2 linked regions of the Homo sapiens genome follow. The gene in region 2 interacts genetically with the main gene of each other region. Each region holds a gene or a part of one and is shown on either strand. Other genes may lie near its edges.

Region 1 (3,818 bases), on a different chromosome or scaffold from region 2:
GATAATAAAGAGCTATCTAACAAGAAAAATTAGTAAGTACCAGCACCATCAATACGACTTTGTCTTTGTACTTCATTACCACTTACCATGCATTATAATGTCTAGGATTGACTCTGATAGCATTTCGAAAACAAGCTAATGCTTTGTCCAATTCTTCAGTTAAGACAAACTCATGCCCTAATAGAGTATAGGCATAAGCGTAATTTGGATCAACTTGGATAGCTCTCTGGAAGAATTTAATTGCAATATCATGTTCCCGTTGCAGACTGAAACAGTTCCCTGCAGCACACCAGGCCTTAAAAAAATGGGAACAAAAACCAAACAGAATTAAAATTTTACTTTTTCTAAAACCAAATCTATGACTAAAATCAAGCCTCAACTTAGAACAGAAAGACAAAAATGGAGGAGCTTCAGTAGATACTCAATTCTAATTATTCACAGATTCCATATTTGTGAATTTGTCTGATTGCTAAAATTTATTTGTAAAACCAAAATCAATACTTGCAGTGCTTTCATAGTCATCAAAAGGTATGTTCTCATTTGAGGTTGAATAATGTGACTCTACCTTCTTGTTTTAGCTCTCATGCAGAGATGACCAGGGACAGAAACTCTGTGGGCTAGTTTAGTGTAGTGCAAGAAGCTTTGGCTCTGGGGACAGTTGGACAGAATTTGAATCCCACTGCTGGCACTTTTAAGTAGGATGGCTTCAGGCAAGTCACCTCTGAACCTCATTCTCTCTCTTTTTTTTTTTTTGAGATCTGGTCTTGTTCTGTTGTCCGGGCTGGAGGGCAGTGGTGTGATCTTGGCTCAATGCAACCTCCGCCACCTAGGCTCAAGTGATCCTCCTGTCTCAGCCTCCCGAGCAGCTGGGACCACAGATGCCAGCCACCATACCTGGCTAATTTTTGTATTTTTTGTGGAGAAGGGTTTTGCCATGTTGCCGAGGCTGGTCTTGGAACTCCTGAGCTCAAGGAATCCGCCTGCCTCAGCCTCCCGAAGTGCTGGGATTATAGGTGTGAGCCACCACACCCAGCAGCATTCTCTCTTTTGTAAAGAAAATAGGATCTACCAGGATGAGTTATTTTTAGGATTCAAGATTATAATCCACAATCTATCTCTGTTTCAAACTCTCCATCACTCCCAGGAACATTGGTTCAGTAGCACTAATTCAGTGTTCATGTTGACTACAGAATTACCGCAAATAATGGGAGTTGACTGTGTTTAATTCTAAGCTTAGATATGTTACAAAAGTATCATTAAATATTTTTGAGATGCAATGAAATACAATCTTACAAGATTAGAGCATGTACATTAATTGCACCTATGTCTTACAATGACAATACTAATTTATTTTAATTTAAAATTATTAATTTTTTCAATCTATGTAACTTCTGCTCAACGAACCCTAATCTTGGTGACAACAGCAAATTTAACGTAGTCAAATCTCGATAAATCCTGAATGAAATAGCTGCTTTGTGATTTTTCTATTTGTGAATCTGCACCACACATTCTAGGACTTTCTCTTCCTCTCTGAGTCCCTGACTAGAGAGAGAGGAAAAAAAAGAAATAAGCGTGGGTGACACTAAATAGTGTTTGAATTGCTTGGTTCATCTCTATCTGTTGAGGGTGATCAAAAAGGTAACTATATAAGCAAAGTATTTTGGTTAACATACCTCTGGCGAATTTTTATCCATGTCTGTTAAGTCTTTTGACAGAACTGAAAGAGCAACATCTTTTTGAAGATGCCAAAGTGTTGTAGAGTAGATCTCCATGCCTTCAACTCTATAATTCTCAATCCTTCTAACCTCTGAGAATATTCTTTCAGCCTGAAATAAAAAAAACTAGTAAGAGAAAACAAGTTGATACAATTTATATATATACACAGGGAAAGCCCTGGTCATTATCTTCACAGGATCTAAATGCTGCCTTGTATTATGGTTTTTATGTGAATGAGTATTAACACAAGGACAAATTCAGCAATCTACTATGGCAGGTCAAATAGTGATGTAACCATATTGACAGTCAACCTAGTATTTATATACAAGCCATGGTAAGAACATGAACTCTGAAAAGGAAATTTGAGTTTCTACCAAAAAGACCGAAGAGAAATCTATACAAAGCTACAATTCAAAAGAAAAGTCAATATTTCCTTCTCAAAAACCTCATTTCCAAGTTTTAATAATGGCATTACAGAATAACTCTTTTTTTTTTTTTTTTTTGAGATGGAGTCTCACTCTGTCGCCCAGGCTGGAGTGCAGTGGCGCAATCTCGGCTCACTGCAAGCTCCGCCTCCCGAGTTCACGCCCTTCTCCTGCCTCAGCCTCCCAAGCAGCTGGGACTACAGGCGCCTGCCACCACACCTGGCTAATTTTTTGTATTTTTTAGTAGAGACAGGGTTTCACCATGTTAGCCAGGATGGTCTCGATCTCCTGACCTTGTGATCCACCCGCCTCGGCCTCCCAAAGTGCTGGGATTACAGGCATGAGCCACCACACCTGGCCAGAATAACTCTTTTAGGAAAGATGATGGAAGAATGATTTCTGTAACATAAAATCTATTTTTGAACAATTTTTACCGAGAGGTTGTGCCAGAAAATTTAGAGGGAAGAAACAGGTTAAGCTGGCTATCAATCCTATGGTTATAAATCCTATTGAGCCCTGAATATACACACCAATATTGTGTCTGCTAGGAATCATAGGCCCTACCTATTAATTATCCTTTCCTTTGCAGCACTCTCTTGACTTCAGGGTCTCTCCTCAGCTGCCTCATCAATTTTTTTCCTCATCACATTCACAGCTCCCAGAACTGTGTTTCTCTCCCTCTAAAGTTTGAGGATTTAGGTTATATAAAATCAGTTTCCTAGTTTATCAATTTACCAAGTTCAAAATTCTCAGCTGCCAGAAAAGGTCTAGGTAATAAAAAAAAAAAGAAAGGAAAAGAAATTTTCACAGTTTAGTTTATAATAAGGAATATCTGGACTATTCTTAATGAAATGAGTATGACAGAAAATAAGAGCATTTTAAAACTGAGTGCTTAATTCCAAGAAGTGGTCATATGATATATAGGAATAGCTTAACGATTTGTAACTTCCTTGCAATCTCTTAAAAGTTATAAAGGTAAGTGTGCAGCCTTGACCTGCAGGGCTCAAGTGATCCTTCCACTTCAGCCTCCCAAGTAGCTGGGACCACAGGTGAGTGCCACCACACCCAGCTAATTTTTTCATTTTTTTGTAGAGACAGGGTCTCACCACATTGGCCAGGTTGGTCTCCAACTCCTGAGCTCAAGTGATCCCCCTTCCTTGGCCTCCCAAAGTGCTGGTATTATAGGCATGAGCCACCACACCTGGCCAAGTTTTTCATTCAGGCATGGTAACAAGATAAAAGACCTACCAGCCAAATATAGGTAGGTACCTTTTGGTTTCAAAGTTTTCAGAATCTGTTGCTTCCTCTGAAAAATGATTATGGCATAGACAAAAAGAAAAATGGGAAAAAAACTCAGAAATTAAGTTGAAACAGAGGCTTTCTTTAATTAAATATTTGGGTCACCACTATAACTAGGGGAAACAATAAAATTCATTTATGTTAAAGTAGCTGTGAAACAATAAATTAGAAATAATTTTTTAAATGGCTTTTCCGAACACAGCTCTTGCCTGTCTGTGTATATGCTACATACCAGTAAAGGACCATAATCGAAACATGGGTTTTGTAGCAATGAATAAGACTTTCTGTCTTCAACTCTCTGTTCTGTACTATTCAAAATTAAATTATATGAATAGGTATCCTCTGTATGTATTCCCTGTGGGAAAGAACACCTTTCCC
Region 2 (3,818 bases):
TGGTTTGGTTCTGGGAACAAACTGAAGTCTTTGATCTGCACAACCTACATTCTAATGGAAAAGCAAACACACACCTAAGATAAACTTTAGGTAGTGGTGAGTTGTGTGCAGAAAATAACTCAAGGTGAAGAAACAGCTGTGACTTGGGGCCTTACTGTAGTCTGGGTGACCAGAGGTCTCCTGAACACAATGTTTAAGCTGACAATCAGAAGCAAGCAGGAAAAATTTGTGGCACGAGTCTGGGGACAGAGAAGGAGCTGGCGCACAGAGCTGCAGGCAGCTCAGCAGGCGCTGGAGTGGGGGGAGAGAGGAGGTGCCGGGCCAGGAAGGCACAGCCAGAGCACGGGCCTGGGGATACGCTCTGCAGCTCAGATTTGATGCTAAGTGCAATAGAAGCTACTGGAAGTCCTAGGGCAGTAACGTGACTTTTCCAATGCTTTTAAAGGATCACTCTAGGTGTGAAGGATGAGCAGCAGGGGCAAGAATGGTTGGAGGGATCTAAGTGAGAAAGGTCTATGGTAGAGACGGGGGAATGGGGAAAAGGAGGCATGCTCAGGACCTATTTTGTGGGTAGAGACCTTGACACTCACTGTGAGAGGAGGCGGAAGGAAAGTCAAGGACGACTCACAGGACTTTTCTCAGAATGGCCGATGCTTACTGGTCTTTTGAGAGCTTTTACGTCTGGCACGGTCCTAAGTGCTGTTTCACACAGACACATGGACACACACACACGCACACACACTGAAGCCTTACAAGATTCCAGTAGGGAAAGTACTATTATTATTTTTCTTTTATAGATCAGGAAACTGAGGCACAGAGCAGTCGAGCAATGTTTTCATGTTGTCCAAACCATGCTGGCCAGTGATGGCTGACCCCACTGCCCTTGTTCTTACTTACTACTCTGTACTGGCTCCCAAGGACCTGGAAGGAGGACGGGCCCTTCACTAAGGTGGAGAAAGCTTGAAGAAGAAGAGGATTTGGAAGAGGGCAGTTTCAAGTCCCTCCAGTGGAGCATCCTCTGTGGGAGTCCATTATTCACCCAGTAACTGTCCATTAAACCAGCAAAGGCCAAGTGCAGGCACAGTCAACGAGCTCAGGCTCCTTGAGGGCCTGTACTCTAAGACACCCTCACAGGGCGGAGACTGGAGGAACGTGGTGCTGGAGAGGGAATAGGGCCAGAGGAGACATCTTAGAAGGAAACCTTCCTCTGTTACAAAGTCGAATGCTGGACAGAGCACAGAAAGCACAAACTGGAGCCTCAGAAGCTGGTTCTCACCACAGTAACCAATATTCACAATAACATGAATTCACTTATTTACTGACTTCCACTCTGTGTCTTTTCAGTAAAAGCACTCACTGTCTTCTGAATATCGATCTATACTCTCCCACTCCAACACAGCACAATCTCACTACTCCTTGTCTTCAAAAAAAATTGATTCCTCTCAAGAGAGGGGTAGGTAAAATTCTCTAAAATAAATCTGAGGAAAGGAGAAGACTGATGACCCGTTTCTAGTTCCTCTTGGGGACACGAAGCAAAGAGGTTGTGACTGGATTGTCAAGAAATTGGTTTTAAGAACAAAACTCCACCAAATTATGCTTTTCAGGAAGTCAAGCCAATTAACTGCTTCTGCAAAAGTGTACTGTCTGCCTCTCTCCCTTGGTCCATAGCGAGAAAAGCAACCTTGGTGTGGGGAGCCCCTCTTCTGCAGAAACTGCTGCCAGCATGAGGGGACGGCCTGAGAGTCTCGGGTGGGTCTGAAGGTCAGCACACATGTGGTGCAGACATGCTGTCATTCTAAAAAGAAAAAGGATAACTCTGAAACCTTACCACTGCTTCTGATGTAGACGGGTATTTCTGCAACCCCGTTCTGGGGAGACTGTTCCTTTGACTCAGCAGGTGCAGCTTTAACTTGCCAAAGAGGATCTTCAACAAAACAAATTAAACATGGTGAGGGAATCTCACATTTGAGAGAAACAGAACATTACTATAGCAGAGCCCATGCCAACAGCCAGAGAAGACACACCCAAACAGACATTACAACATGCTTAAATTCTCATTTAGTACTTTTCTACAAGTTAAAGGCTTTGAAGTAATGAATCTCAATGTGTTCATTACTTGTGAGAGAACATGAAAAACTTACTTTTCAGATAGTTGACATAAAATAATACTTATAAATTCAAAATAAATCTCCCTTTAACTCCTGAATAAGAAATACATTTTATGAAAGAACCAAAATTCAGCTTTACCTCTCGAAGCTGGTTATTGCTCGTTATAAGAAACCGTTCTCCTGCAACAAAATGAGCTTCTTGCTCCAATTCCTTGAGACGAGCCTGAAAATATGATACACACAATTAATTTCATTCATAGTTTTCACAATTTAAGATTGTTTAATTTGTTCATCAAACAATTCTCAACAGCGAGATGGGCACGGTGGCTTATGCCTGTGATACCAGCCCTTTGGGAGGCTGAGGCAGGAGGATCACTTGAGACCAGGAGTTTGAGACCAGCCTGGGCAACATAGTGCGACCCCACCACTAAAAAAAAAAAAAAAAAAAAAAAATTAGCCAGGCATGGTGGTACACACCTGTGGTCCTAGCTGCTTGGGAGGCTGAGGTGGGAGGATTGTATGAACCCGAGGGTTCAAGGTTGCAGTGAGTTATAACTGTGCCATTGCACTGCAGCCTGTGTGACAGTGAGACACTGTCTCAACAAACAAACACATACACACAAAATTCCCAAAGAAAGCTCTTAAAAGAGTAATAAATAACCTATAATTTATCAAAATAAGCATAAAAATACACACTTTGGCCAGGCACGGTGGTTCACACCGGTGATCCCAGCACTTTGGGAGGCCGAGGCAGGTGGGTGTCTTGAGCCCAGGAGTTTGAGCCCAGCCTGGGCAACATAGTGAGACCTCATCTCTACAAAAAAATAAAAATAAAAATAAACATATTTTGCCTCATGGTGAAATACCTAGGCTCATAGAAGCATCCTCCCCCAAAGGTAAGAAAACAAACTTAAAGTAGTAAAAATAATGGGAAAGAAAGAATCAATTCTCCAACAATATTAAGACTAGAAAAGGGATCCAACATCACATAGAACAAGACAGAGGTAGAAAGTATAGGAAACAGGCTTGTATCCAGAATACATCAGGATATCCTATACATCAGTAAGAAAAAATATAAAAATGGGCAAAAGACTTGAGCAGATCCTTTACAAAAAGAAATTCCTAAAAGCTAATGATGCTATGAAAAGCTAATCGATCCCACTAATGTGAAATGTGACATACAAAAATGATATCACTCTGGTCCAGAGCTCTAAAGTAGAGTCAGGGAGCCATTCTAAGGACTGCCTGCATGACCTGAAATGCTGAAAAACAAAAACAAAAACAAAAAACAGGAACTTGAATTGAACCTCTGAACTGGGCTCAACTGCAATGACCACAACATCCTGGAAAACAGCTAGATTTTGCCAGTGCTGCACCTTCTGAAGAGCGACAACCAATGAGCTCAACGGACTCATGTACTAAGCCAACCGCCTCCAACAATGATAATTCTTTCACAACAACTGTGTATTCGCCCTTAGCTTCCTTTTAAAAATCTCAACTCCCCTTCCTCTCTTCAGAACACTTATTGGCCTTTAGCTGAACCTGTGTCTCCTGAATTGCAGTTTCTAAGACCCCAGGAATGCCTTGTCTAACTGCTTTGCAGTCTGCTCTTTCACCTCTTCTTGGTTGACATTAGTAATCAGGAAAATAGAAACAAAACTCATAATGAGATATCATTATAGCCTCACCAAAATGGCTACAATGTAAAAG

What was found.
Region 1: changes in POLN (region 2) and CDC27 together harm fitness more than expected from each alone (negative genetic interaction), as found in Homo sapiens cells (one large-scale study listed by BioGRID).

Annotation. Positions count from the first base shown.
Region 1 is NC_000017.11:47,137,066-47,140,883, forward strand, and holds part of CDC27 (cell division cycle protein 27 homolog), read right to left. Parts: intron 1,827-3,818; coding exon 1,674-1,826; intron 296-1,673; coding exon 87-295; intron 81-86; exon of another isoform or gene 1-80. UniProt on the Homo sapiens protein: Component of the anaphase promoting complex/cyclosome (APC/C), a cell cycle-regulated E3 ubiquitin ligase that controls progression through mitosis and the G1 phase of the cell cycle.
Region 2 is NC_000004.12:2,168,851-2,172,668, forward strand, and holds part of POLN (DNA polymerase nu), read right to left. Parts: intron 2,332-3,818; coding exon 2,248-2,331; intron 1,925-2,247; coding exon 1,829-1,924; intron 1-1,828. UniProt on the Homo sapiens protein: DNA polymerase with very low fidelity that catalyzes considerable misincorporation by inserting dTTP opposite a G template, and dGTP opposite a T template. Is the least accurate of the DNA polymerase A family (i.e. POLG, POLN and POLQ).